Linked DNA regions of Homo sapiens. The protein of the gene in region 4 purifies or fractionates together with the protein of the main gene of each other region. This does not show direct contact. Each region holds a gene or a part of one and is shown on either strand. Other genes may lie near its edges. The genes, in order: LRPPRC, ALDH3A2, UNC45A, TPTE, CAND2, BZW2 and OPA1.

Region 1 (4,209 bases), on a different chromosome or scaffold from region 4:
GAATAAAGCTGCTATAAGCATTTGTGTGAAGGTTTTGGTATGGACATGCATTTTGAACTCATTTGGGTAAATACCTAATGGTAAATCTATGTTTAGCTTTCTAAGAAAACTATCAAACTATCTTCCAAAATAGCTATACCATTTTGCTTTCCTACTAGCAATAAATGAGAGTTCCTGTTGTCCTACATGCTTGCCAGTATTTGGGGTTTTCGACGTTTTGCTGGATTGTTGCCATTCCGATAGTGGTATCTCATTGTTGTTTTAATTTATATTTCTCTAATGACATAAGCTGTTGAACATCTTTTCGTATGCTTATTTGCCATCTATATGTCTTTTCTGGTGAAGTATTTTCTGCCCATTTTTATTTATTTTATTTTGAGATGGAGTCTTGCTCTGTCACCCAGACTGGAGTACAATGGCGCGACCTCAGGTCACTGCAACCTCTGCCTCAGGATTCAAGCGATTCTCATGCCTCAGCCTCCTGAGTAGCTGGGATTACAGGCACACACCACCATGCCCGACTAATTTTTATATTTTTAGTACAGACGGAGTTTTACCATGTTGGCCAGGCTGGTCTCAAACTCCTGACCTCAAGCGATCCGCCCACCTTGGCCTCCCAAAGTGCTAGGATTACAGGCATGAGCCACCATGCCCAGGCCATACACGTTCTTAAAACTCTTCTCTCCACTTTTTTTCTTCTTCACTGATATTATGAATCAGTTTAGTGTCACTTTAGAGCTATCAAGAGTTTAAAGGTAGATACAGGTAGAAGACAGAAGAGGCATTATTAATAGCTAATGTTTATCAGGTGTTTAATTTGTGCTGGGTATGAGAAAATTATAACTTACAAATGAAAAAACTGAAGCAACTTGCCCAAAGTCATCACAGTTAAGGCTAATGATAGGGCCAGGGTTAGCACTCAGACGGTCTCATTCTGAGACGGTCTCATTCTGAAACGAACTCAACGTGGCAAAAGGGCATTGAAGAAACTAATCTGGCTGCAATTGGGTGTTCACACTGGAAAGTGGTAAAAAATTAAACCTAGACAGTGAGAGTGAGACTAGACAGTGCAAAGTCTCTAATGGCAGATAAATAAGGGATTTGGATTTTATGACACACTTGTAAAGTACAAAACTAGTTTTCATAGAGCCGCTCTCTCAACTTATTTTGTTGCACTGTAATGTAGAAAATGGGGAACTCAAATTTATCTCCTACGTTTTCACCAATCCCTAATTTAACTATTCCACTTGAATTTTCTTTAGCCTGTTGATACGCTGGATCACGTGGATTGATTTTCAAATGCCGAACCAGCCTTGCACAGTTGGAATAAATCCCACTTGATCACGGTAAATCATTCTTTTTATATACTGCTGGAGCCTCCCGAGTTTTAAATGTATCCAAAATGCAAAAAGATAATGCCTTTTAAAAATGTTTGGTAATGAGCCGGACGCGGTGGCTCATGCCTGTAATCCCAGCACTTAGGGGAGGCCGAGGCGGGCAGATCACGAGGTCAGGAGATTGAGACCATCCTGGCTAACAAGGCGAAACCCCGTCTCTAATAAGAATACAAAAAATTAGCCAGGGGCCGTGGCGGGCGCCTATAGTCCCAGCTACTCAGGAAGCTGAGGCAGGAGAATGGCGTTAACCCAGGAGGCGGAGCTTGCAGTGAGCCGAGATAGCGTCACTGCACTCCAGGCCGGGCGACAGAGCCAGACTCCTCAAAAAAAAAAAAAAAAAAAAGGTTGGTATTCCCTTCAAATTTCTCCACTGCAACCAACCATTCCACTAATACCCTGTTCCCACAAACTCAAACTCAAAATCTTAGACTAATTATTTTATTGGGCAAAGTCTCTCAGCCTTTACATCCCATCTAGTGAGTGCTTAGATGTCTGAGGCTCTTGATGAACTCATGGATTTCTGCAACAAATCTTTAGTTTCTCAGGCTTCAGCCTCTCTTCATACAACTGCCAGATCAACCATCCTCAAAACCATCTTTTTTCAAAAATCCTATCATTGTTCTTTACTTATCACATCAATTCTGTTCTTCCATTTATTAATTCAAAATATATTTACTGAGTGCTTTCTATGTATAAGGCACTGGCTAGAATATTCTTATCTAGTAATAAATCTAATAAATTAGACCTTTAAAAATATTAATTATGGTAAATGTAATTAAGAAAAGAAACAACGGGCCAGGCACGGTAGCTCAAGCCTGTAATCCTAGCACTTTTGGAGGCCGAGGTAGGCAGATCACTTGAAGTCCGTTCGAGACCAGCCCGGCCAACATGTGAAACCCCATCTCTACTAAAAATACAAAAATAAGCCGGGCATGGTGGCAGGTGCCTGTAATCCCAGCAACTCAGAAGGCTGAGGCAGGAGAACTGCTTGAACCCAGGAGGCAGAGGGTGCAAGTGAGCCAAGATCGCCCCACTGCACTCCAGCCTGGGAGACAGAGACTCTGTCTCAAAAAAAAAAAAAAAAAAAGCTGGACACAGTGGCTCATGCCTGTAATCCCAACACTTTGGGAGGCCAAGGCGGGCGGATCACCTGAGGTCGGGAGTTCTAGACCAGCCTAACCAACATGAAGAAACCCCATCTCTACTAAAAATACAAACTTAGCCAGGCATGGTGGCGCATGCCTATAATCCCAGCTAGTTGGGAGGCTGAGGCAGGAGAATCGCTTGAACCTGGGAGGCAGAGGTTGCAGTGAGCCGAGATCACGCCACTGCACTTCAATCTGGGCAGTAAGAGCGAAACTCCGTCTAACAAGAAAGAAAAGAGACGCCACTGCTCAATAAACAATAGCTGTCTTATTATAGAAGGTGCTCAATAAATGCCTCTGAGTTTTTGTTTGTTTGTTTTTTGAGATGGAGTCTCGCTCTGTCACCTCCGGAGTAGCTGGGACTACAGGCACCCGCCACCACGCCCAGCTAATTTTTTTGTTATTTTTTTCAGTAGAAACGGCGTTTCACCATGTTAGCCAGGATGGTCTCGATCTCCTGACCTCGTGATCCGCCCGCCTGAGCCTCCCAAAGTGTTGGGATTACAGGCATGAGCCACCACGCCTGACCAAATGCCTCTGAGTTTTTACAATATCTTTCCTTTATCTTTTTTTTGAGACAGGGTCTCATTCTGTTGTCCAGGCTGGAGTGCAGTGGTGCAATTATGGCTCACTGCAGCTTTGAACTCCTGGCCTCAAGCAATCCTCCCACCTCAGCCTCAGCTCCCAAGTAGCTAGGACTACAGGTGCATGCCACCACAGCTGGCTAATTTCTTTTTTTCTAGAGACAGGAGTCTCACTATGTTGCCCAGGCTGGTCTTGAACTCCTGGCTTCAAGTGATCTTCCTGCCTCAGACTCTCAAAGTGCGGAGATTACTGGGCCTGGCCTAAAAAATCTTTTATAAAACTAAGTCACAATGAACTTTCTCCCTCTAAGAACTGAATTCTCCAAAAACTTTTGACAAATTTAGCTGCCCCAGTTTTATGCTTTATGGTAAATCACAGAATTTTAGACTAAAAAAGCTACTAGCCACCCTTCTACACTTTATAACAACCTTCTGGCCTGAAATACCAATCCACTCCTTTCCACCTATCGAGATTTCCCTTCCATCTCCCAGGATCCTCCAGTCAAATGGGATGTCTCCTGTGTCTCACCTATGGAGGAAGTAATGCAAAGTCAGTTAACCAGATTGGGACCGATAATGTGACATGGACACTCTTCAGAATCTATGAAGATCCCTTCCAGATACATTCTGAGATCTTCTATGTTTACTTACCTGTGAAAGTCTTTAAATCCCAAGTTTATATCATATATTGCCTTTTAAAAAATGTTTTTGTCCATAAGTAATCCCTTCACCATCTAAAACACAACAGTCTGGACCTCATTCTGCACCCAATGATAACTACCATGGCAGTTAACTGTAAACAGGAAAATGACAAGATCAAATGTGTAACATATGTAAAACACTTGTAACATATGTTGCAACATATGTAAAACATTTCAGAAACGGGAATCACGGTATCTGGAGTTGAATCTCAACTTGAGGTCTTGAATAAATTATACTTCTAACCCTGTTTCCTAATTTGTAATAACCCACGGAAGTTGAAATGTTTGTATGATGTTATGTTTACAAACACACTTTGAAAATAATAAACATCAGGCCAGGTGCGGTGGCTCATGCCTTTAATCCCAGCACTTTGGGAGGCTG
Region 2 (3,382 bases), on a different chromosome or scaffold from region 4:
CAGTTTGCGTATTTTGAGATGAAAGAGGAAATCCGTAATTAAAGTTAAGATGGAATGAGGAAGGCAATTGTGTCTGTGGTGCCCTCAGCCGTTCAACTGAGGATATAACATTGAAAATATTGACCATATCAGTGAAGAATGGGCTTGGAAAAGGCAATGGTAATAGTTGTGTTTATGTTTTGTTTAAAATTTGAAAGGGGGCCGGCGCAGTGGCTCACACCTGTAATCCTAGCACTTCGGGAGGCTGAGGCAGGGGAATCACGAGGTCAGGAGTTCAAGACCAGCCTGACCAATATGGTGAAACCCTGTCTCTACTAAAAATACAAAAATTAGCCAGGCATGGTGGCACGCACCTGTAGTCCCAGCTACTCGGGAGGCTGAGGGAGGAGAATCACTTGAACCCGGGAGGTGGAGGTTGCAGTGAGCCAAGATCATGCCACTGCACTCCAGCCTGGGCAATAGAGCGAGACTCCATCTCAACAACAACAACAACAAAAATTTGAAAGGGGTTTGGCTCATCTTACAGTATCCCAGCCTTAGTGGAATTGGAGATACCAGTTGCATTTGAAATCATTTGGGTTTTCTCAGAAATACCAAGCTGTGCTGAGGAGAAAGGCCCTGTTGATTTTTCTGGTAGTTCACAGACTGCGTTGGTCCAGTAAGCAGAGATGAACACCAGATTTCAAAACCCAGCCCTGTCTGTTAAGAGTGAGGTAGGAACTTTTTGTTTTCTTTCTATATGTAAGGTGGGCCAAGTTGGGGTATGTTTTCAAGGGTTTTTTGGTTTGTTTTTGTTTTTGTTTTTGTTTTTGTTTTTATTTTTGTTTTTTTTTTGCTACAGTTGGAGGCTTAAGGGTTATTGAAAAAAGAATGGGCCGGGCGCAGTGGCTCACGCCTGTAATCCTAGCACTTTGGGAGGCCAAGGCAGGTGGATTGCCTGAGTTCCGGAGTTCGAGAACAGCCTGGCCAACATGGTGAAACCCCATCTCTACTAAAAATACAAACGTTAGCTGGGTGTGGTGGTACGTGACTGTAGTCCCAGCTACTAGGGAGGCTGAGGCAGGAGAATTGCTTTAACCCGGGAGGCAGAGGTTGCAGTGAGCCAAGATTGTGCCACTGCACTCCACCCTGGGTGACAGAGCAAGACTCCGTCTCCAAAAAAAAAGAAAGAAAAAAGAATGTTTAACTTACTTATCTCTAGACATTTTGGACCTGGGCCCAGAGTATCAGGGTGTTAAAACTCCACTTATCCACAATTTTAAAAGGGTGAAGTGACTTGCTAGGAATCTAAGAGAAGTGTGCAGAGGCAATGGCTTAGCTGCGTCCAGGTGAAGCATACATCATTTCTTGGAAAAGGGCAGCTGAGTGTGAGCCTCATTTCTCTTCCCCTTCTACTCAGCTCTCCTGGGGGAGGTGCCAGCTGACTAATTCAGACTTGTCACCATCTAGGCACTGAACTCTTTATGTCATAATTTAAGAATATGTTTTTTAAATCACTAAGTAGTTTTGATTTGTTTTCATTTTTAAAAAAAGGTTTGACTTTGGAATTCATGGCAGCAAATGTCGTGAAATCAAGGTGTAGTATACAATTTAGGGGCTACTTTCTTTGCCTTCCTGAGGCTGGAGGTGTGGTCGGAAGCTTACTTGGGTCTCTGGTCAATATCTGTCTCTTTTGTTCTTTTCCCAAGACCTCGGTTCCTCAGTTTGATAATGCATCTTGGTAGGATAGAATATTTTAGCCTCATGGAAAATACGGAGGCCCAGGCTGAGTCTGCATTCTCCAATCTTACCAAACCCCCAAGAAGCCTCCCTCAGGTGCAGTGCAGTGTGCCAGGCAGGTTCGAGTTCCCAAAGGGTTTGGCAGGCATGTTTCTCTGTGAGGGTCTAGAGAAGCAGCAATATATAAAAGAAGCAGCAATATATAAAACCTTTAGCAGAAACAAAAAAATGTGGTTTGATTCCTGGCTCAATGAACTTGGGCAAGGCCTTTTCTGAGCTCTTTCTTGGGCCTCAGCTTGCTCATCTACAGGGTGAGGGAGTAGGTGTCAGTGATTCCCCAGGCCACTTTCAACCCTTCCGCTCAATTCTCATTACTAATAGTTGTTAATATTTCTTTGGATTCAATCTGGAACTAGGTAGAGATTTGGTTTTCTTTTCCACTTTGCTGCTTTTCTGCTCCTTTCTGAGCTTTTAATCCTCTTTTTATCAAATTACCTTTTATTTAAAATAAATGACTTTGAATCTGTACTGTATATTTACCTGAATAGTCTATTTATTGTAATTACATTTTTCTGAAATGGCTTTTATGTACTTAATAGTTTCCTTATTTTGTTACACTCTTGGATTTTATTTTATTAATTACCTTACTAGAATTAGAAGGGATTTAGAGCAGAAGTATTGTACACAAAGTAAAGTTCCAATAAAGCTTATAAGCTACAGAAGGCATTGTGGGAGATGTGGGTTTTAAAAGGTCGAGAAACATAAGAGGTTAATGTTGATAAATTTCATTAGGCCTTTGACAACTAAATATGACATTTGAACCTTGAGATTGCAGCAGCCCTTCCTCAGTCTTCAATAGGAAGGATTAAATTCAGTACTACTTTTGAATTTTAGAAACAAAATTGTATACCAGTTTTTGAATTCCATGTAGAGACTTCAGCTTCCTACTGAAAATGCTAGGATAATAAGTTAGTACTCTCATCTTCTGTCTCTACTCTGACATTAGCTAGTTGACAGTGGACAGAATATAGCCTTCATTATCACGTTGTCTTACTCTTATTGTTATTGTTGTTTTTTGAGGAAGGGCATAATCCTTTGGCCTAAACCGTGCTTCCTAGGCTTCCTAGGGATATGTAGTCCTTTTTTGTACAATGCATGTAGAGTCTCTTCAGACAGGAGGTGTCTGAGTCCCAGTGCTGAGCTTGTGTTGCAAGGCTGGTTGTGGGTAGGTTTTTAAAGCAGCTGAGTAAACTGAATCCTTTTTTCCTCTCTCCAGGCAGAATATTACTGAAGAATGATCCTGTTCAACCTCCTAGTGCCTCTACTGAATTATTCCTCTTTTAAATGGTTAATGAACCAATAATTTTTAAATCATACCAAAAATAGTAAGAAAATATGCAAACACTCTGTGATCAAACTTAAAAGTCATTGCCATTCATCATTAATAAAAGTTGCCATTTCAACTACGTCCCAACATTCCCTAATAGGGTATTCAGGGAACCTGTCTTAAATTGTGCTTATCTAAATCTTGGAACTTTGAGCTAGGGGAGGAGAATGTATTAGACTAAATACAAACTGCGGGGTTGTAAGGGAGTCTCAGAACCTCACTGAATCCTTCACTCCAGTTAATGGCACTGCTCACTTCCTGCCTCTGCTGCCACCA
Region 3 (4,209 bases), on a different chromosome or scaffold from region 4:
TTCACCTCCCGTTGCCAGGGATTCTAGCGAAAAAGTTCTGACTCCTTGAGGAGGGGCAGAAATGAAAGGTTTCCAGCAGAAACAGTAATCTTGGGGAGGACTAGTTGGAGGCTGAACAAAGGGAAAGTGGCCCCAAGGCCCACTTCCTGCTCCAAAGTGGCCTCCGCAGGGAGGTTCTTTCTCAAGTCAATGTTCCAATAATGCAACAAACGCCATCAAGCACGTACTGGGTTTACCAAACACTTCCTACGCTTCTGTTCCCACACAGATGAAACATGACAGTCCTTTTTTTTTTTTTCTTGAGACAGAGTTTCACTCTTGTTGCTCAGGCTGGAGTGCAATGGCATGATCTCAGGTCACCACAACCTTCGCCTCTAGGGTTCAAGCGATTCTCCTGCTTCAGCCTCCTGAGTAGCTGGGATCACAGGCATGCACCACCACACCCAGCTAATTTTGTATTTTTAGTAGAGACGGGGTTTCTCCATATTGGTCAGGCTGGTCTCGAACTCCCGACCTCAGGTGATCCGCCTGCCTTGGCTTCCCAAAGTGCTGGGATTTTTTTTTTTTTTTTGAGATGGAGTTTCGCTCTTGTTGCCCAGGCTGGAGTACAATGGTATGATCTTGGCTCATTGCAACCTCCACCCTCCCAGGTTCAAGCAATTCTCCTGCCTCAGCTTCCCAAGTAGCTGGGATAATAGGCACCCACCACCACGCCTGGCTAATTTTTGTATTTTTAGTAGAGATGGGGTTTCACCATGTTGGCCAGGCTGGTCTCGAACTCCTGACCTCACACCTGAGGTGATCTGCCCGCCTTGGCCTCCTAAAGTGCTGGGATTACAGGCATGAGGACCGCGTCCAGGCGACAGTCCTTGTTCTTAAAGGAGATTATAGGCCAGGTGTGGTGGCTTACACCTGTAATCCCAGCACTTTGGGAGGTGGAGGCAGGTGGGTGATCACCTTAGGTCAGGAGTTCGAGACCAGCCTGGCCAACATGGTGAAACCCCATCTCTACTAAAAATACAGAAAATTAGCCAGGTGTGGTGGTGGGTGCCTGTAATCCCAGCTACTTGGGAGGCTGAGGCAGGAGAATCGCTTGAATCCAGGAGGTGGAGGTTGCAGTGAGCCGAGATCACGCCATTGCACTCCAGCCTTGGGGACAGAGTGAGACTCTGTCTCAAAAAAAAAAAAAAAAAAGAAAGAAAAAAAATTAAAGGAGCTTACAGCTGTTGGGGAGAAAACTGATGATAAATTATGAAATAAGCCGAATCATTTCAGAGCTTAAGTCCAGGAAGGGACATCACTGGTGGTATGGGAGTAACCTGTATTAGATACTATGTCAGGGAAGGCTTGAGTGAAAGTCGATAAAGAAAATCAGCCATTATTGTCCAGGTGGAAACGTCCTAGTCCTCCCATTGGCAGCTTTCCTGCTGTTTCTGCCCAAGTAGTGCAGGTGCCTGGCCAGTGGAGGGGAAGGGAGGGAAGAAGAGTCCCTTTATGTTGGCCTTGGTGTGACGGCTGTCACCCTGTGCCCCTCAGGAGCTGGTTTGAGGGCCAAGGGCTGGCCGGGAAGCTACGGGCCATCCAGACGGTGTCCTGCCTCCTGCAGGGCCCATGTGACGCTGGCAACCGGGCCTTGGAGCTGAGCGGTGTCATGGAGAGTGTGATTGCTCTGTGTGCCTCTGAGCAGGAGGAGGAGCAGCTGGTGGCCGTGGAGGCTCTGATCCATGCAGCCGGCAAGGCTAAGCGGGCCTCATTCATCACTGCCAATGGTGTCTCGCTGCTGAAGGACCTATATAAGTGCAGCGAGAAGGACAGCATCCGCATCCGGGCGCTAGTGGTGAGACGGTGGGCCTGGGGTGGGTGGGCAGGCAGCCAGGCAGGGGTCCTGGTCCAGCCGGTGTTGCAGGGTGTGGCCCCAGCACACTCCAGATGAAAATAAGGAATACTGTAATGCCAAAAAAATTAGCTAGGCTTGGTGGTGCATGCCTATAGGTCCAGCTACTTGGGAGGCTGAGGCAGGAGGATCACTTGAGCTCAGGAGGTTGAGGCTGTGGTGAGTCACGCATGTCACTGCACTCCTGCCTGGGCAACACAGCAAGACCCTCTCTAAAATAAATGGATGAATGAACGAGATTCTGGGCTTTCTTGTGGTGAGAGACATCGGCATGGCTCCTCCCTCCATGGGGCTTAAGACTGGGCCTGCAGGGGTCATGCAGTGTTCCTGGGAGCTGGTGGTTTGGGGGTTTGGGGACTACCTGGCCCTCCATGAGCCTGTTGTGGCTGTGCACCCTGTGGAAGCTGGTCTTCCTCCCTGGGGCACTCAGTCCTGGATTTCTCCATCCCATAAGGATTTGGCTGTGGCTGAAGCACCTGTCCTCTCCCCACATGCCTCTCAACTCCACCTGCAGAGGGCTTCTTTGTGCGACATGGAAGGAAACAGAGCCATTCTCAGTGTGGCCTGGGAAGGGGTGGGGCCCACGACTGTCCAGCGGCCAGCGCATCAGTGTCTGCAGATGCTGTGTCATGCGGCCACCCCAGTAGCTGATTTTCTTGCCACATGCTCTAGGTGGTGGTCTGGAGGGAGAGGGTGCTGATTTGTCTGTGTAGCTTCCAGGGGGCCATGGCAGAGTGCCAGGGAGGGAGTCCAAGCCAGGTGTGGAGGAGCTCAGCTCCTGCCTCCTTCCCCAGAGGCCAACTGGTCTTGCCCTCTTCCTCCAGGGACTCTGTAAGCTCGGTTCGGCTGGAGGGACTGACTTCAGCATGAAGCAGTTTGCTGAAGGCTCCACTCTCAAACTGGCTAAGCAGTGTCGAAAGTGAGTCATCTGGCCTTGCTGTGGTTCCCCACCTGTGGGGTAGATCTCAAGACACAGGGGTCTGGGTGGGGGTTGGGGCCTCCTCCGTCCTGCTCTCTGGCTCAGGCAGGGGCTGCAGTCTGGATCCTGGTACGTGAACTGCTTCTGTACATTGAGGGGATGCCCAAACCCTTGGTTTTTCCCCCTTGGCCTTGGTGTACCCCTCCGTACCCCCAATCCTGAGGGTCGTCCACTATCCTGCGTGTCCCCAGGTGGCTGTGCAATGACCAGATCGACGCAGGCACTCGGCGCTGGGCAGTGGAGGGCCTGGCTTACCTGACCTTTGATGCCGACGTGAAGGAAGAGTTTGTGGAGGATGCGGCTGCTCTGAAAGCTCTGTTCCAGCTCAGCAGGGTAGCTCTGTGGTTCCTGCCGTCAGCCTGGGGACACTGTCTAGGATTAGACCTTACCAGGCTTTCTCGGCAGGGCTTGGCCAATGGGGTCTTTTGACCCCAGGGAAGAGGGCTGGTGGCTGAGTGGCTGCTCTGTGTAGTGTGGGCATGTTGGCCAGCACCAGTGGTGTTAGCAAGGACGTTCTTCTTGGAGGAGCTGGGGAGGTCAAGTTTGTAAGCTCCCAAAGTCTGGGGCCTGGGAGTTTCCCGAATTCATCCTGTACCCAAGGGTCCCAGCTGAGGGTGGAATTGGGGGCCTGGGCCTGGGCAGCATTTATCTGAGTACTGCTCTGCCCCGGGATGCCCATGTGAATTCCTCTGTGTCCTGGCAGTTGGAGGAGAGGTCAGTGCTCTTTGCGGTGGCCTCAGCGCTGGTGAACTGCACCAACAGCTATGACTACGAGGAGCCCGACCCCAAGATGGTGGAGCTGGCCAAGTATGCCAAGCAGCATGTGCCCGAGCAGCACCCCAAGGTGAGGGGCCGCCAGAGGGGCTAGAGGGTTCCCCACCATGGGGACAGCTAACCCAGGGCATCCACAGCAGAACAACCTCCCTTTTTTTTTTTTTTTTTTTTTGAGATGGAGTCTCACTGTCTCCCAGGCTGGAGTGCAGTGATGCGATCTCGGCTCACTGCAAGCTCCGCCTCCCGGGTTCATGCCATTCTCCTGCCTCAGCCTCCCGAGTAGCTGGGACTACAGGTGCCCGCCACCATGCCTGGCTAATTTTTTGTATTTTTAGTGGAGACAGTGTTTCACCGTGTTAGCCAGGATGATCTCGATCTCCTGACCTCGTGATCCGCCTGCCTCAGCCTCCCAAAGTGCTGGGATTACAGGTGTGAGCCACCGTGCCCAGCCAACAGCCTCCCTTTTAAGCCAGTTTGTTTCCTTTTGTCTGGCTGTTTTATTTCCCAGTTCCTCAATTACTGCTGTGAGAAGGGTCCCCCTTTCTCTGTGAGTCAGCCTAGG
Region 4 (4,209 bases):
TGTATGTTTCAGAAAGATGTATTTACTGAAAGTTGGATTCATATAGTGGTATTGATTGTATTTTAAATTATAACTACTATTTGTTTTTCATTTTAAAGGTTATACATATATACATATATATATATATATATATATATATATATATATATATAGACACACACTTTATAGGTACACATATATCTTCATTTAAAAAAATAAAGAGAACAAATGAGCCAAAAAAGTCTCCATATTGTTACCAGTTATTTAAAATTTGATATGTTTATCTTTTTCTATCACACATACACACAATCATACTATATGCTTTTTGCATTTGTTTACATAGTGCTTAGATAGACTGTAATATGCAGATCACTCTCTAAAGATGTATCTATTCAGAATTAAATAAGAACGAATATGAATTAGATTTAAACAAGATCCATATTAACTGTGAATTAATGATTTAGAACAAATTACTTAAAGTTAGTTAACCAGCTAATTTACTTATCTGATAGCTTTAAACAGTGTGCATTTACAATAGAGACTCATCTGAGTAGCCAAACATACTTGTGGACTATTTGAAAAATCACAGTGGATTAGAACTTGAAGTTTGCATACCCTCTTATTCCCTGAATCTCCACTAGAAGATGCTAGTGAGAGACAAATTAATAAAAGTAATAACCATTTTAGGTTCCCCCTAGGAAATAGCTTATGTTGGTGCCATGTAAATATGTAAGATATGTGTTTGTCTTTTTTAGGAAGTTGTGCGGTTTCTAGATAAGAAACACCGAAACCACTATCGAGTCTACAATCTATGCAGTATGTACATTACTCTATATTGTGCTACTGTAGATAGAAAACAGATTACTGCACGTAAGAAGATGATTTTGTTTTTTAGATTGCATTTAATCATAAGTATTTGGTAGTGGCAAGGAATGAATTTAAAAATCCCCATCTTGGACTGGCCCCATTTAGTAGAAGGAGTTAGCCCAGCAGCACAAAGTACCGTATGAAGGATGTGGCTTTGGCAGGACCAATGAAGCTGGAGTGGAAGAAAACCATTTTAGGGAAGATCTGTTCTAGCGATATTAGGTTTAGGAAAATCTTTCTGTTTTTCTTGCCAGATTGTGTTATGAGGACATAGACAATTTAACAAATGAGTCTTCTGACCCATCAGCAGTGGCATGTGATGAGAGCAAGGCTCTAGATGGGAAAAAAGCAAAAAACTGTAGAAAATAGGTTGTAACCCAGTTTAATACCCTGTCTCTCTTGATTTTTTCCTCTACCTGTATACTCAATAGACATTTTCAGGGGGCAAACATTTTGGTCAGCTACATTTGCCTTGTGTGGTTTCTAACTACCCTGAAATAATATAATGAATAGTCTGCTAGAAAGTTAAAAATTATACCTATTAAACAAAAATAAGTTGAGTTTAGGTTATATGAGATGGATAAACCACTACCATCCTTATATTTTTGAAACGCTTGCGTTTATTTTAGAGTGGCAGGAGCAACTTGGAAAGCTCTTTTTGAAGATAGATAAGGAATTCTAATAAGATATGTTAACTTATTCATAACTTCCTCATTTATCATGTTATTCCCTATAGAGATATGACATACATATTATTTATTTTAGGTGAAAGAGCTTACGATCCTAAGCACTTCCATAATAGGGTCGTTAGAATCATGATTGATGATCATAATGTCCCCACTCTACAGTAAGTTTTATGCTAAATTGACTATCAGAAGAGGGCTAAATATATTGGGCTTGATTTTTTGAAAATATTTTAACTAAAAATCTTAAACTTGAAATCAGTCAGATGGTGGTTTTCACCAAGGAAGTAAATGAGTGGATGGCTCAAGATCTTGAAAACATCGTAGCGATTCACTGTAAAGGAGGCACAGGTAATAACATTTTCCTTTTTATTTCTCCATTTCTAAAGACATGTAAATATACATAAAGTACAAGAACAAGATACGTATTGCTATTAATATGTATTAATAATTGTTAGCATTTTTAAATATTAGCTCCAAGACTGAAAGAAGGGAAGGAGAAAGGAAAGAGGAGAGGAGGAAGGGTAGGAGATAGGGAGAGGATAAGGAAGGGAAGAAAGTAAGAAAAAAGAACTAAGGAAGGTTGAGCATATTTTCCCTTGTTTTCCTAGTATTTGGATTTCTTTATTTTTGGTTTGCTAGTTTATATCTCTCAAAATACAAACAGTCTTTAATTTTAGAATATCAGAGTACTGTTATTTAAGGCTGATCTTTTTTATTTTTAAATTAACAAATAAAAAACCAATATATTTATGGTGTACAACATGATGTTTTGATATAGGTAAACATTGTGAAATGGCTAAATCAAGCTAATTAGCATATGCATTACTCCACATATTTTTGTGTGAGAACATTTAAAATCTACTGTCTCAGCAATTTTCAAGTATACATTATTATTAACTGTGGTCACTATGTTGTACAATAAATTTCCTGAACTTATTCTTCCTGTCTAACTGAAATTTTGCATCCTTTAATTAACATCTCAGGCTGGGCACAGTGGCTCACACCTGTAATCCCAGCACTTTGGGAGGTTGAGGCAGGTGGATCACATGGTGAAGCCCCATCTCTACTAAAAATTACAAAACATTAGCCAGGTGTGGTGGCATGCACCTGTAATCCCAGCTACTCGGAAGGCTGAGGCAGAAGAATCGCTTGAACCTGGGAGGCAGAGGTTGCGGTGAGCTGAGATCGCACCATTGCACTCCAGCCCAAGCAACAAGAACAAAACTCCATCTAAAAAAATAACAATAATCATAAAGTAAAAACCAACATCTTCACAATCCCCCAAGTTTTGTCTCCCCAGCCCCTGGTAACCACCATTCTACTCTCTGCTTCTATGAATTTGACTTTTTTAGATTCCACAAATAAGCAAGACATGCAGTATTTGTCTTTCTACGCCTGGCTTATTTCACTTAACATAATGTTCTCCAGGTTCGTCCATATTATCTCGAGTGACAGGATCTCCTCTAAGGCTGAATAGTATGCCTTTAATTATATATACCATATATTATTTATCCATTCATCCACTGATGACATTTAGATTGACTCCATAGCTTGGGTATTATGAATAATGCTGCAGTGAACATGGGAGTGCAGATTTCATTTCCTTTGGATATATACCCAGAAGTGGAATCTCCAAATCATATGGTAGTTCTATTTTTGGTTTTTTGAGAAATCTCAGTGCTGTTTTCCACAATAACTACTAATTTACATTCACACCAACAGCGTACAAGGGGGTTCCCTTTTCTCTTCATCCTCACCAACTCTTCTTTTGTCTTTTTGTTAATGACCATCCTAACAGGTGTGAGGATATCTCTTTGTGGTTTTAATTTGCTTTTCCCTGATGATTAATGATGTTTAGCATTTTCTCATTATACCTCTTGGCCATTTGTGTGTCTTCTGTTGAGAAATATCTTTTCAGGTTCTTTGCCCATTTTCTAGAGAAGTAACTTGTTCTCTTGCTATTGTGTTGTCTGAATTCCTTTTTTAAAAAATCTGTTAACCTATTATCGAATGTATGCTTTGTAGATATTTCTCCCATTCTGTAGGTTGTCTCTTTACTCTATAAATATCTCCTTTGCTGTGCAAAAGCGTTTTAGTTTGATACAGTATCATTTGTCTACTTTTTCTTTCGTTGCCTATGCTTTTCAGTCATATCCAAAAATATCTTGGCCCAGACCAATGTCAAGAAGATTTTCACCTATCTTTTCTTCTAGTAGTTTTCCAATTTCATGTTTCACAGTTAAGCATTTACTTTGAGTTGATTTTTGTATATTGGGTGAGATAGGTTGCAATTTCATTTTTCTGCAAGTGGATATTCAGTTTCCCCAGTATCGTTTATTGAAGAGACTGTCCTTTCCTCATCTTGGATTCTTGGCACCTTTGTTGAATATCAGCTGAGTATAAATGCATGGATTTTTTCTGGGCTTTGTATTCTGTTCCATTGGTCTATATGTCTGTTTTTGTTCCAGTAATATTTAAGGTTGTTCTTAAACTTTGTGAGAACCTTTTAGATTAAGGGAGCCAACAGAGATGCTATATCAAAAATTATACTGGAATTTTTATAGTGTAATGATACGAAGAAGTTGACATTGGTGGGGTGAAAATGGGGGAAAAAAGCCATTTGTAAATCCAACCAATTTAAGTTTAGTTAGATTTTCTCTCATTCAGGTTTGGGCTT
Region 5 (4,209 bases), on a different chromosome or scaffold from region 4:
ATGGTGTGGCCTGTTGCTCCTAGGCTACAAACCTGTATTGAGTACTGTAGGCAGTTGTAACAGAGTGGTATTTGTGTGTCTAAACATAGAAAAGGTACAGTAAAAATAAGGTAGAAAAGATTAAAATGGCATGCCTGTATAGGGCAGCTCCATTAAAATCTTTTTTTTTTTTTTTTTTGGAGACGGAGTCTCTCTCTGTCGCCCAGGCTGGAGTACAGTGGCATGATCTTGGCTCACTGCAAGCTCCGCCTCCCGGGTTCACGCCATTCTCCTGCTTCAGCCTCCCAAGTAGCTGGGACTACAGGCGCCCGCCACCACACCTGGCTAATTTTTTGTATTTTGTTTAGTAGAGACTGGGTTTCACCATGTTAGCCAGGATGGTCTTGATCTCCTGACCTCGTGATCTGCCCACCTCGGCCTCCCAAAGTGCTGGGATTACAGGCGTGAGCCATTGCGCCCGGCCAGCTCCATTATAATCTTATGGGACAACCATTGTATATGTTGCCTGTCACTTACCAAAACATCATTATGTGACACAGGACTGCATTTGACCTCGAATCTTTGTATTAAGGTCTACTTCTAGGGGAACCCTGAGGTACTGCCCAAATCCACCAGGGCCCAGGAGCTGCTCAGCAATCTCCTCCACCCTCCCTGTGCAGGTTCATGGCCACCAGCGACCTGATGTCGGAGTTGCAGAAGGACTCCATCCAGCTGGACGAGGACAGCGAGCGCAAGGTGGTGAAGATGCTGCTCCGGCTCCTGGAGGACAAGAACGGTGAGGTGCAGAACCTGGCTGTCAAGTGGTGAGTGTCAGCCTCGGTGGAGCAGGAGAGGGGGCCCTACCTTGTGTGGGAGCATCCTGGGGACCGCTGTCCCTTTGGGGTACAGCCTCGCAGAGGAGACCTGCTGAGCAGCTCTCGTTGAATGGTACCTTAGTCTGAGTTTTCCCAGAAGATGCTGAGACAAGGATTCAAATCTAAGTTTATTTGGGAGGCGCTCCCAGGAAACATGGTAGAGGAGTAGGGAAGTGAGGCAGGAAAGGGAAGAGGACCAATCAAGGGTATGGTACGAAGCAAGTGACCACAGTGGGCCTGATGAGCTTAACCCCATGGGGACCTCTGGGACACAGTATAGGACATGTCCCTTGGACTTTTCCCACTCAAAGGGTAAGGGAGCTGGGGTATTAATCCACCAGCTCCCTGGTAGTCATTGGTTAAGGGCTGCTTCTGGGGTAGGATGGAGGGTTGTCCACTGCCTGCCACCTCCAGCCAGAGAAAGCCCTCAGACAGATGTAAATGCTGGGAAGGTCAAGCTGACACACATCAAGGTGGTAAAGGCTTAAAGGCTGGGTGCGGTGGCTCATGCCTGTAATCCCAGCACTTTGAGAGGCCAAGGCAGGTGGATCACCTGAGGTCAGGAGTTTGAGACCAGCCTGACCAACATGGTGAAACCCTGTCTCTACTAAATAATAATTAAAAAAAAAAAGTTGCCGGGCATGGTGGTGCGTGCCTGTAATCACAGCTACTTGGGAGGCTGAGGCAGGAGAATCGCTTGAACCCAGGAGGCAGAGATTGCAGTGAGCCAAGATTGCGCCATTGCACTCCAGCCTGGGCAACAAGAGCAAAAATTCCATCTCAAAAACAAACAAACAAAAAAGGCTTAGGGCACATGGGACTGGGAGAGGTCCTAAAAGCCCCAGCCTTAGATCACTGTGAGGCTGTGATCCTGAGACGTTGGCCAGTTATCTCGAGTAGAAAAAGACAAGACAAGGGTATGTGCAGAGCACGTGGGGATGCTTGTGTGGTAGGGTCATTCTCACACCCACACCTGAGAACCACTAGTGTAGGGCAGAGGTTGTCAAGCTTGACTGCAGGTTAGCATCACCTGGGTAATTTTAAATAGAATGCCAGGGATCAAGGGACAACAGGGTGAGAGAATTGGGCACTGTCTCTCAAACCACTGTCTGTGAGCTGGGTCCAGGCATTCTTCTGGGGCATGTTAATGAATTTGCAATGTGATCCCAAGAGCAGAGAGAATTCAGTAAAGGGTTTTATGTAGGAAGGTGACATGGACAAGTTTATGAGCTGGGAATGTCTTTCTGGTCATGGAGTAGACTTAGGATGGGTTTCACACCAGCAGAACCAATACCTTTTTATAACAAATAGTTTGTAATACCGTTTCCTATTAGGAAATGAAATTCATACATTATAAAACCTACCTCTACACATAATGCCCTAACCATAACCATAAAGGCAAACTAGAAGGAATGTAGTTTATAGTAATGTGTGTTTCCATGTATGCGTGCTTGGGCACTGTGATGGTAGAAGTGATGAAGTCACGAGAAGCCTGCATCTACACGTGAACTCATCATGAGTACAGATACAGACAGGGGGTGTTGGGGACTCAGGTTTCAGAATTGGAGGCCATTGCTCTTAGTGGCAAGATTTTCTTTTTTTTTTCTTCTTTTTTTTTTTTTTGAAACAGAGTCTCACTTTGTCACTCAGGCTGGAGTACAGTGGTGCAATCTCAGCTCACTGTGACCTCCCCCTCCCAGGTTCAAGCGATTCCCATGTCTCAGCCTCCTCAGTAGCTGACATTACAGGCATGCACCACCACACCCGGCTAATTTTTGTATTTTTAGTAGAGTCGGGGTTTTACCATGTTGGCCAGGCTGGTCTTGAACTCCTGACCTCAAGTGATCTGCCTGCCTAGGCCTCCCAAAGTGCTGGGATTACAGGCATGAGCCACCACACCCAGCCAGGATTTTCTAAAGTGAGTGACCATCTCCCAATAAAGTTTCCCAGAAAACAAAGTAGAATTTTCCTTCAATTTACCTGAAAATTGCATTCTTAGAAAATCTAAAATGTGGTATATTAAAACAATGTAAAAAAGTATTTTGTGTCTATGTATAAAATGAAATTTTAGACTCAGATAATTATAGAAAGGCCTTTTGCCTATACAAATGCCCATTGGGATGTTAGAACCTCTTGCGGGGCATGGACAGTGCTTTGTTTTACATTATTGTCTTTCTGCCGTTCCTGCTTCTCAACCCCTTAAAGGCCAGAAGTACTAACTCAATAGTTTTGATGACCAAGGACCCCCATAAATTGCCAAGGTGGTATTACTCCTAGTGGGAACCAGTGCTATAGGAGGTAGGATGGAGGACTCCATGATTACGTAGATAGAGGAGCTGTGGAGAAGGAAGTTGAGAGAACCAAGGTTTGAAAACCATGGTGCACATGCCTGTAGTCCTAGCTATTCTGGAGGCTGAGGCAAGAGGATCACTTGAGGCCAGCAGTTCAAGACCAGCCTGGGCAACATAGCGAGACACTGAAAAAAGAAATTAGCCAAGCATGGTGGCTTGAATATGTAATCTCATCTGTGTAGGAGGATCGCTTGAGCCCAGGAGTTTGAGGCTGCAGTGGGCTATGATCACGCCACTGTATTCCAGCCTGGGCAACAGAGCGAGACCTCATCTCAATAAAAATCAAGAAAAAAGAAAACCATTGTGCATTGCAGTCACCTGAAGCTCTTGTTGAAACCCTGTATTCCCTGCCCAGGGATTCAGATTCAGGGGATGGAGCAGGAAGGGAGCTGGGGCAGAGGATGAGACTATAGCACCCTGGAATCTGCATTCTGATGCACACCAATGTCTGAGAACCACTCAGGTAGGGCAGAGGTTGTCAGCCTCGACTGCATGTTAGAATCACCTGGGGAATTTTAAAAGCCCTCCCCCAACCCCCTCCAGGCCACATCTGAAACCAATTAACTGAGACTCTCTGAGGGCAGTGCCCAGGTAGGCATTTTTTAGAGGCCCAGGTGATGGCAACTAAGGCCAAGAACGAGGGCGTCTAGTGCCGCTGTTTTTACACTTTCCTGTGCATTGGAATCACCTGGGGACCTTGTGGCGCTACAGATCCTGGCTCAGTAGATCTAGGGTAGGGTAAGGCCTGAGATTCCACATCCTGAACAAGCTCCCGAGTGGCATTGCCAATGCTAACTCACCACCAAACTTTGAGAAGCAAGCCTCTAAGGCAGAGGTTCTCCAAGTGTGCTCCCTGGACCACCTACAGTATCAGCCTCAACTGGGAGCTTGCTAGAAATGCACACTATCAGGCCACACCTAGATATAGCCCTCCTGACTCTGAAACTCTGGAGGTGGGGCCCAGCCATCTGTTTAAACAAGCCCGCCAGGGGATTCAGATGCAC
Region 6 (4,209 bases), on a different chromosome or scaffold from region 4:
CCTGAAAGTCAGTCTTTTCTAAGCAACCCTCCAGGTTACTGTTATAGTTCCAGCAGTGTCGGCTCTGTACCTCCCACGCAAGTGACGGCTTTTACTCTCCACTTCTGTTCTAGCAATATGCTCCCCTGCTGGCCGTGTTCAGCTCCCAAGGCCAGTCAGAGCTGATCCTCCTCCAGAAGGTTCAGGAATACTGCTACGACAACATCCATTTCATGAAAGCCTTTCAGAAGATTGTGGTTCTCTTTTATAAAGGTATCCATCCACGTGCCACTGCTGTGCTTCTGTGTTTTGCTGAAGCTCTTTGAGAGGCAGAGCAGGCAATGAGGCAGAGGAGGTCATGGGGCTCTGTTTAGAGAGGGACAGCAAGATGCTAATTTGTGAAAGTTTTATTGAGGCAACCATACCATGTAGAGAGAGGAGGCATACACGCCATATATGCGTTGCCTTGGAAACCCTGCTTAGGCCCCTGGGCACTTCTCATTGGTAGATGAACTGGTAATTGTTTCTTGGGGTTGGTGGAAAAAAAATGTAATTATATAAAATTGAGCCTGTTTTTGAATTGTAAGGATTAGCTCTAATAACAATGATTATCAAAATAGTATATATATTATGTTCAGACTCTTTTAGGTACCATAAATCTGACTTTAAAATTACTGAAGTAATTAGCCTTTTTACTTTGTATTTTAGTTACTTGGCCCAGCCATTCTCCTGTTTTCCAAGGGAATGGCTATTTTTAGGTTTTCACATTTACTGTCTTTTCATTGTATTTATAAGGATTAGGTTGCTATGACAACTGGCACTAAAATATGAATGCTAAAGGTTTTAACCGATCCCAATCTGTATACCTACAGCATACAGAAATGTCCTAGGCTATTTTTTGGGCCTACATTTATGTAGTTTTGTGAGGGAGAAAAAGGAACACTTAAGAAGTGGTACATTTTGAACATTATAACATGTTTATTTTATGTTATTATGTTCATAAATATCATATCAGAAAAGTTAAAATAATACCAGCCAAATGTTTATTTTCCCTTTCATGTGTTCCTAAATTTGTCTCTTTTGAATTATATCTTGGGAATTTGGAAAATAAAGGTTTTAGATAAATAATAGCTCTTTTAAAAATGCTTAATAGCATTTCACAATGAATTTTTATTGGCCACGTAGATTCCTCAAATGAATGAATCTTGTCCACAAGTGTTTGGGTGATATTTTACTTTTTCAGGGCACAGAGGTATTCAGCAACAATTATAATAGTCAGGAGGAAAATATGATGGCCACCCATTGCCACTTGAAGTTCAGTAATTGGTATTTTCTCCAACCAGACCTGAGTTGGGTCTTCTTGGATTTAGTCATAAGATAGCAGTGTCCTAAAACTAGGCCCCACCCAATGATACCCAAAGTGATCCACCCATCAGAACCAAACCTGCAAGCCATGTTACCAATTCATAGATGGTACCCAGCAGCCAAGAACGAGAAGTGGGGCCCAACCTTCTGTGGCCACAGCTGGCTCCATTTGTAAAACTGGCAGAGAGACCTATGGGACAGGTTTCACATTTGTTTTGAGGGTGGTCAATTTTTTCCACTACGGAAAACCAAACTGTTCGTAAACTAGTTAGTTACCTGAACATAGTTTGCTTTCTTGTCATATAAAAGATAACCCAACCAGTGTTTCTCACCAATTTTTTTTTTTAACTGAGACATCGTTGTCGGAGTCTCATCTTCAGGAGCACCCTATCGTATTATTGTAATGAAATCACAAAGAATCAGCAAACCCATTGTTACGGGAAATGACATCTAGGTGGCACATGAACTATTAAAATCCTTCAGATTTCTCATTTTAACCACTAATGCCAACCTCCTTTTCCTTTAGACTTAGACTTCTTATAACAACTACTGACAGGTAGTAAAACTGGCTACTTTGAGTTTTTTCTTCTTCATCAGCCCCAGATGCTAAGGGTCAGTATGACCTGAAATTAGAAAATAACTCAAGAAGTAAGCACTAGGAAGTAAAAAGAAGAGGCATGAGCTCTTAGGCTCATTGATTAACTAGGTAATCAGCGTTTAAATAACCTAAAGTTAGTGAGGTCTGTGGCAAGTATGACCTGGCCCCAGGGAACACAGGAAGGGTGAGTGTCAACATCAATTTTATTTCTGCCTTAGTTATTTTTGGAAATGAAATTGGGAAACTTTTTTAAAAATGTAAACCTAAAACACATCACTGAACTAACATTTTCAATACCATTTTCTAGGTAATTTTGTAATTTTCCACAGAATGATATATATAGTCTGTTTTCTTAAGTGAAATGATTCCATGTTTTCTCTGGAGAACATGCAATCCCTGAGGAATGATTGTTCCATACCACCGTTAAGAGCGTTACTGTGTTAACTATGTTTACCATCTTGTCTCTTTTTTGCCAGATTTTTACTTTCACCTTATTTTGTCCACCAAACACTTGTGCACCAGGAGACATGTATTTGATTTGTTTCTGTAAAGATTTGGATGCTCTCATTCCGTGTTTTATATGCCTAGAGGGAGACTTAGTAAACAGTGAGTGTTAAAGCACTCCTTTCCTAATATGCCTAAGAATTACCCAGAGAGCTTGTTATAAAACACAGCTCCCCCAGAGATTCTGATTCAGTAGGGCCAGGGTTGGGCCTGAGAATTTTCATTTTAACAAGTTTCCAAGCTGATGCTCTGACTGTTGTACCAGGACCACTGGTGTAAAGTGTATAGCATTCAAGAAGCAACAGATGCTATGAACTCCAGTGACATGTTCAAGATTATACTTACCTTTGATTTCATGTACATACCCACATTTTACACATATGGAGTAGTGTCTTCTCTGCTTCTTTTACCAAGTTTCTGTGGATTCCTTTTGTTTGTCATAAGGAACGTAGTGCTCTAAAACAAGTTTTTAAAATGTAATGGAAACCGTTGCTCCATTTTAATTTTCATTTTTATCTCTCTCTGACACACAGAGCACACACAAACATATACATGGACACACACACACCTCCCCTTTCCCAACATGTCCAGAACTTGATGATAGCAGAAACTTGGGCATATGATTAGCCATGTCCCCCTTGGCAAATCTAATTACTTAATTGAATATCATTATTGAAAGATTTATAAATCTTTTACATAAATAACAGTGGAATAAAAGCAAATAAACTAAATAATGCTAGTCAGCAAAGAAAAAAGTGGTGATGGGTCATTTTGCAAAGACTCTCTGTATTAAAATCTAGATTTGCATATTTTTAAGGTAGTAAGAAACAGTAAATCCATTGCTAACTTTCAAGCATCACATTATTGACTTTTAAAAATAATTTTCTCTTCTTTTTTCCCTGAAGATAAGTCCCATAGACTCAGCATGGTCTAAAATGTGTAAAACTACCTTGTCAAGTACTGTTATTATCTCTATCATGGGTTTTCTTGTTTGCAGAAATTTTTTAGGTTAAATTCTATCCTGCATGCAAATTTTTCTAAAAGGAGTTTTTTATTCTAGTTCTAAAAAAGGGTGAGTGCCCTTCTCAGCATATATTCCCAGCATTCTTAGGGTAAATTATTTTTGACTTGTGTCCCTATGTGACATTCCTAATAAAAAAATTTCTGAATTTCAAGAGTTTCAAGTGACATAGTTTCAGACTAAGTTTCTAAATAACTAACATGATCTAAAATTTAGCAGTTCTCAAGCCACTTTTACAGTATTGTCTCTTCGATCCTCATGAATACATTAGAACTCTACAAATTGAGAAATATTTATTTTTTCTCATCAAGTTAACAAATTTATTCCTTAAACGTGTGTTGAATCGATACTATAGGGCAGGTCTTTCATTAAATGCTGGAAATGAGATGAACAAAATATAGTCCCTGACTTCCTGAATTTCAGGATGTAGAAGAAAACAAAGAATTACACTCACCATGTCAATTGCTGAAATAAGCCTCACACAGAGGGTGTCAGAAGGGATAGGACCACAGAGGGAGGGCACCTAACTTGTTAAAGGTAATTTGGAGGGGGAGAAGTGAAGGCTCTCAAGGTACATGTATCTCACCAGACATTATGAAGAAGTTGGCCAGATAGAAGGGGAAAACATATATTCCAGTCTCTATGTGCCATCATACAATGTCTTCCTTTCTTACTGTCTTTTACTGTTATTCTATATTCCTAATAGGCATTTATGAAATATCCCACCAAAAATGGTTTCTCA
Region 7 (4,209 bases), on a different chromosome or scaffold from region 4:
TTTGGGGTACATCTAACCTAGAGAAAAAAACAAAATGAACCTCAGACTACACCTCATATCCTGTTCAATAATCAGTTGTAAAAACATGGGAGAGAAACCTACCTTTTACATTGTTACTAGCATCCTAATTGTAGAAGCTGTGGATGATACTTCAAGAAGAAATTAATTTTGTTTTGGCAGGCAGGGTGTGGACAGGTTTCCTTGAAACAGATGAGGCTGGTCTCTTTCCGGTTTGTCATTAGTCCCTTAGTGTTTACTAGAGCTTCTCCTTGACCAACCCTGAATTCCAGTTTTTTGTTTCCCTAGAGCAGTGAAAGTGCCAAAACCCCAGCTTAGCATTTTAACCTCCTTAGCAGCTTCTTTCTGCTTGGTTTCCTAAAATGTGAATGCCGTGAAAGGAAATTGTGCGCAGGATGTAGGGTTTTGTTTTGTTTTGGAGGTTTATTTCTGCAGTTCATTTTTCTTTGGGATTGTGGCACCTTAAGACGTGACTACTTAATAACTCGGAATTCCAATCTTGTCTACTCAACCCAGTGAAACTGCTACACATTTTAAGTTTTTCTCTTGGGCCTTTGCCCTGTGCTACAAATCAGCAAATCCTCTGATGGAAAATAGCTAAACAGCTTTCCAACAGCTGTTTATTGTTTTTAAATTTAGCCTGTTTAGCTAATCTCAGTAGAAGGAATTGTATTTTTAAAGTAAAATAACTATAGAGAAGCTAGAAAGGTGTCAATTAGGCATTTAGAAGTTCTTGTGAAACCACTGACTGTTAATATACATTGCTATAACATTTCTTGGCTGGGTGCAGTGGCTCATGCCTGTAATCCCAGCACTTTGGGAGGCTGAGGAGGGCGGATCACCTGAGGTCAAGAGTTCAAGACCAGCCTGGCCAACATGGCGAAACCCTGTCTCTACTAAAAGTACAAAAAACTTGCCAGGTGTGGTGGCGGGCATCTGTAATCCCAGCTACTCGGGAGGCTGAGGCAGGAGAATCACCTGAAACCGCGAAGTGGAGGTTGCAGTGAGCCGAGATCATGCCACTGCACTTCAGCCTGGGCGACAGAATGAGACTCGGTCTCAAAACAAACAAAAAAACAAACAAAACAAAATTTCTTACCCAAATATCACTCCTTGAGTGAAGCCTGTCGTAGCTCCCTTATCATCAGTTCCATTCTCTTCTGTGGCACCCTAGGTTTTGTCACTCTCTTCTATTATGTCTGTGTATATTTCTCCCAGCATGTGATGAGGTCTAAAACTGGGACAGTCAGCTCTGTGTTTCCCCACCTACAACACCTGACACATAGTTCACTCTCTATAGAGGTTGAATGAATGAATTGTCCTTTACCTAAATTCATCTTTGAGGTTAAATGCAAGGTTTCCTTTTAGTGTTTCAAGTTTTAGAGAGATGATTTTGGGCTTAGTGCTGTGTATAGCATTGACTGGGGAAAGAAAGAGGCAGCAGCATTTTAGGTCATAAGCGATATAAAGGAACCAGCATTCTTGTTGGGAAATCACAACATATATGACATATATACAAACAATACAAATACAAAATTATTGTCTTGTCAGAACTACCATGTTGACAGCTTCAGGGGGTGCCCCAGCAGTAGTGTGAAGGGACTCTTGGATTTGTGCAATGCAGTAGCCCTGTCTAGACCACATACGGGCTGTGGGAATTAATATTACTTATAAATACATCATTACCTCTCAGTTTTCTGTTACTATCAGGTGACTCTGAGTGAAGGTCCTCACCATGTGGCCCTATTTAAAGATAGTTCTCGGGAGTTTGATCTTACCAAAGAAGAAGATGTAAGTAAAATTCATCTAAGGTTGATATGTGTAATTTTATAACCTGGATGAGCTTATAAAAGACAGTTAAAGAATATTTGTGAATTAAGATTTTCTTAGATTTTCTTAGGATTTTGTGTTTTCCATTAGCTTGCAGCATTAAGACATGAAATAGAACTTCGAATGAGGAAAAATGTGAAAGAAGGCTGTACCGTTAGCCCTGAGGTAAGGGTTGCAATTCATTTCAGTGACGTTTTATGGAAATTAAATGTTTATGATTTCAAATAAATCAAAATCTAGGTATTGATGTTTAGATTGCTGCTATCTAGATATGTAGAGCTTTTAAAAAAAAATCCAAATAATATATCATTTTGTGGGTAATTTTCCAGAATAATTACTTTTAGGATCAGAGAAAGAATACCATTTTTGTGAGCGTCTTATCTGAATGGATGAGATATAGAATTTTTAGAATACATTTCACCAAAAAAAATTCTTGACAAATTCCCCCCAAACTTTAGCATTGTTTTATTTTTATTTTTCCTGAGTAGACCATATCCTTAAATGTAAAAGGCCCTGGACTACAGAGGATGGTGCTTGTTGACTTACCAGGTGTGATTAATGTAAGTATATACAAAACATGTATTTTATTTTATTCTTATTGTGTGAAGCATTTATAATGACATTTAAAACCTTTTTCTTTAAGACTGTGACATCAGGCATGGCTCCTGACACAAAGGAAACTATTTTCAGTATCAGCAAAGCTTACATGCAGAATCCTAATGCCATCATACTGTGTATTCAAGGTAAATCATATCAAAAGATTTTAATGTACTGATATGTTTTCTTCTTTAGCAATCCAAGCTTTGCATTAAATAGTTTGTGTTATGTAAACATACAAGATAAATGCATTTTTGCCTTCTCTTCGTATTCATTTTATTAGTAAATTAAATTGAAGTTGAAATTATTTTGATAAGTTTTACATAAGCATCATTGAAATTTTTATCGGCTAGGATTTCTTTTTAGTAAATAACGTAAATGTATTAAAATCTTTCTTGCTATAATGTAGACACAGGGGTATAATTTGTACTGAGTTTTAAAAGTCTACTTTACATCTTAAAATTCCACAGTGTCATTTTTTTATTTTTTTCAGATGGATCTGTGGATGCTGAACGCAGTATTGTTACAGACTTGGTCAGTCAAATGGACCCTCATGGAAGGAGAACCATATTCGTTTTGACCAAAGTAGACCTGGCAGAGAAAAATGTAGCCAGTCCAAGCAGGGTGAGGTCAAATTCTTTGTTGCGAGAATAGATTCTTTGTAAAAGCTCCAGCTGTGATAGGGATTTGTTATTTAAAAAAACAACAACAACAACAAAAAAACACCTTACAACTAAGATTTATTACAATGAAAGGATAAAGCAAAATCACAAAAGGAAATGGTACATGGTATGAAGTCTGAAGGAAACCAGGCTCACGTTTTTCCACTAGTTCATTCCCAGTAGACTCTACTGGGCACATTTAATTCCTCCAGCAACAAGCTGCTTGTTAGAGACTCAGCTCCTAAGGTTTTCATCGGAGGTTAGTCATTTCGGCACCCTCATGTACCAAAATTATTTCATACTCCCAAAAGGAAAGCATATGTTATAATTAAACCACATTACTTCAGTAGTGAGCCACTGTTATATAAGGAAAGGTTTATATCAGTGTAGGGAACTGTTTACCAGTTAAGTTTTCAGATACCAGCCAAAGACAGGCAGGCCTTTTTAAGGACAGTAGTCTCAGGCCTGCTGTGTTAACCCTTTTCTAGGTAGCCACCATAACCTCTGTTCTGCTTTCTTTTTAAGGGTAAGGCCTGCCGTGGCATTAATGGTTCTGATATGGAGAAGGGGAGAAGTGAGGTAGAAACAAATTTCTGTGGCCTCCTCCCCATCTTTCTTCATTCCTTTCATTTCTTTCAACTCTAGGATAGTGAGTTTATATTTCTTCTGAGATGCAACTGAAGCTTATTTCAGTCCTTTTTGTATAAAAGATTCAGCATTAGCTTAGGTGTAACTTGTCTTAAAGGAGGGATTCTCATCCCATTATTAATCTGAATGGGCTTCAGGGGGTAGAAACTCTAACATATGTGAAAGGTCTCTATGCAAATATGCATTTTTCTGGGTACATAGTCTTTTTTTTTTTTTAGTCACATTTAGAAATGGATTTTTGATCCTAAAAGAGTTGAGAAGCAGTGGATCCAAATATTAAAGAAGAAGGTGGGAGGGGAGGAAGGAGTAAAAGAAGACAATCCAGCTTGGTTAGAATTTAGATATTTGAAGAAAGTATGGAAAAATAATAATAGCTACCATTTATTGAGTGCTTCATGCCTGGCACTGTATCATATTGTCCCATAATCTCACCAACCTTTTTGAAAAAATTAAG

The links.
Region 1: the proteins of TPTE (region 4) and LRPPRC purify together in Homo sapiens (affinity purification with mass spectrometry, with the first as the bait; one large-scale study listed by BioGRID). This does not show direct contact.
Region 2: the proteins of TPTE (region 4) and ALDH3A2 purify together in Homo sapiens (affinity purification with mass spectrometry; 2 studies listed by BioGRID and IntAct, with this or other methods). This does not show direct contact.
Region 3: the proteins of TPTE (region 4) and UNC45A purify together in Homo sapiens (affinity purification with mass spectrometry, with the first as the bait; one large-scale study listed by BioGRID). This does not show direct contact.
Region 5: the proteins of TPTE (region 4) and CAND2 purify together in Homo sapiens (affinity purification with mass spectrometry; 2 studies listed by BioGRID and IntAct, with this or other methods). This does not show direct contact.
Region 6: the proteins of TPTE (region 4) and BZW2 purify together in Homo sapiens (affinity purification with mass spectrometry, with the first as the bait; 2 studies listed by BioGRID). This does not show direct contact.
Region 7: the proteins of TPTE (region 4) and OPA1 purify together in Homo sapiens (affinity purification with mass spectrometry; one large-scale study listed by BioGRID and IntAct). This does not show direct contact.

Annotation. Positions count from the first base shown.
Region 1 is NC_000002.12:43,985,772-43,989,980, forward strand, and holds part of LRPPRC (leucine-rich PPR motif-containing protein, mitochondrial precursor), read right to left. Parts: intron 1-4,209. UniProt on the Homo sapiens protein: May play a role in RNA metabolism in both nuclei and mitochondria. In the nucleus binds to HNRPA1-associated poly(A) mRNAs and is part of nmRNP complexes at late stages of mRNA maturation which are possibly associated with nuclear mRNA export.
Region 2 is NC_000017.11:19,672,563-19,675,944, forward strand, and holds part of ALDH3A2 (aldehyde dehydrogenase family 3 member A2), read left to right. Parts: intron 1-588; coding exon of another isoform or gene 589-672; exon of another isoform or gene 673-713; intron 714-2,995; coding exon 2,996-3,010; coding exon of another isoform or gene 3,011-3,063; 3' UTR 3,064-3,382.
Region 3 is NC_000015.10:90,945,078-90,949,286, forward strand, and holds part of UNC45A (protein unc-45 homolog A), read left to right. Parts: intron 1-1,536; coding exon 1,537-1,837; intron 1,838-2,718; coding exon 2,719-2,813; intron 2,814-3,064; coding exon 3,065-3,206; intron 3,207-3,576; coding exon 3,577-3,717; intron 3,718-4,209.
Region 4 is NC_000021.9:10,576,726-10,580,934, forward strand, and holds part of TPTE (putative tyrosine-protein phosphatase TPTE), read left to right. Parts: intron 1-734; coding exon 735-795; intron 796-1,611; coding exon 1,612-1,693; intron 1,694-1,791; coding exon 1,792-1,880; intron 1,881-4,209.
Region 5 is NC_000003.12:12,802,829-12,807,037, forward strand, and holds part of CAND2 (cullin-associated NEDD8-dissociated protein 2), read left to right. Parts: intron 1-659; coding exon 660-803; intron 804-4,209.
Region 6 is NC_000007.14:16,697,935-16,702,143, forward strand, and holds part of BZW2 (eIF5-mimic protein 1), read left to right. Parts: intron 1-113; coding exon 114-252; intron 253-4,209. UniProt on the Homo sapiens protein: Translation initiation regulator which represses non-AUG initiated translation and repeat-associated non-AUG (RAN) initiated translation by acting as a competitive inhibitor of eukaryotic translation initiation factor 5 (EIF5) function.
Region 7 is NC_000003.12:193,641,037-193,645,245, forward strand, and holds part of OPA1 (dynamin-like GTPase OPA1, mitochondrial), read left to right. Parts: intron 1-1,728; coding exon 1,729-1,809; intron 1,810-1,938; coding exon 1,939-2,013; intron 2,014-2,336; coding exon 2,337-2,408; intron 2,409-2,491; coding exon 2,492-2,591; intron 2,592-2,938; coding exon 2,939-3,069; intron 3,070-4,209. UniProt on the Homo sapiens protein: Dynamin-related GTPase that is essential for normal mitochondrial morphology by mediating fusion of the mitochondrial inner membranes, regulating cristae morphology and maintaining respiratory chain function.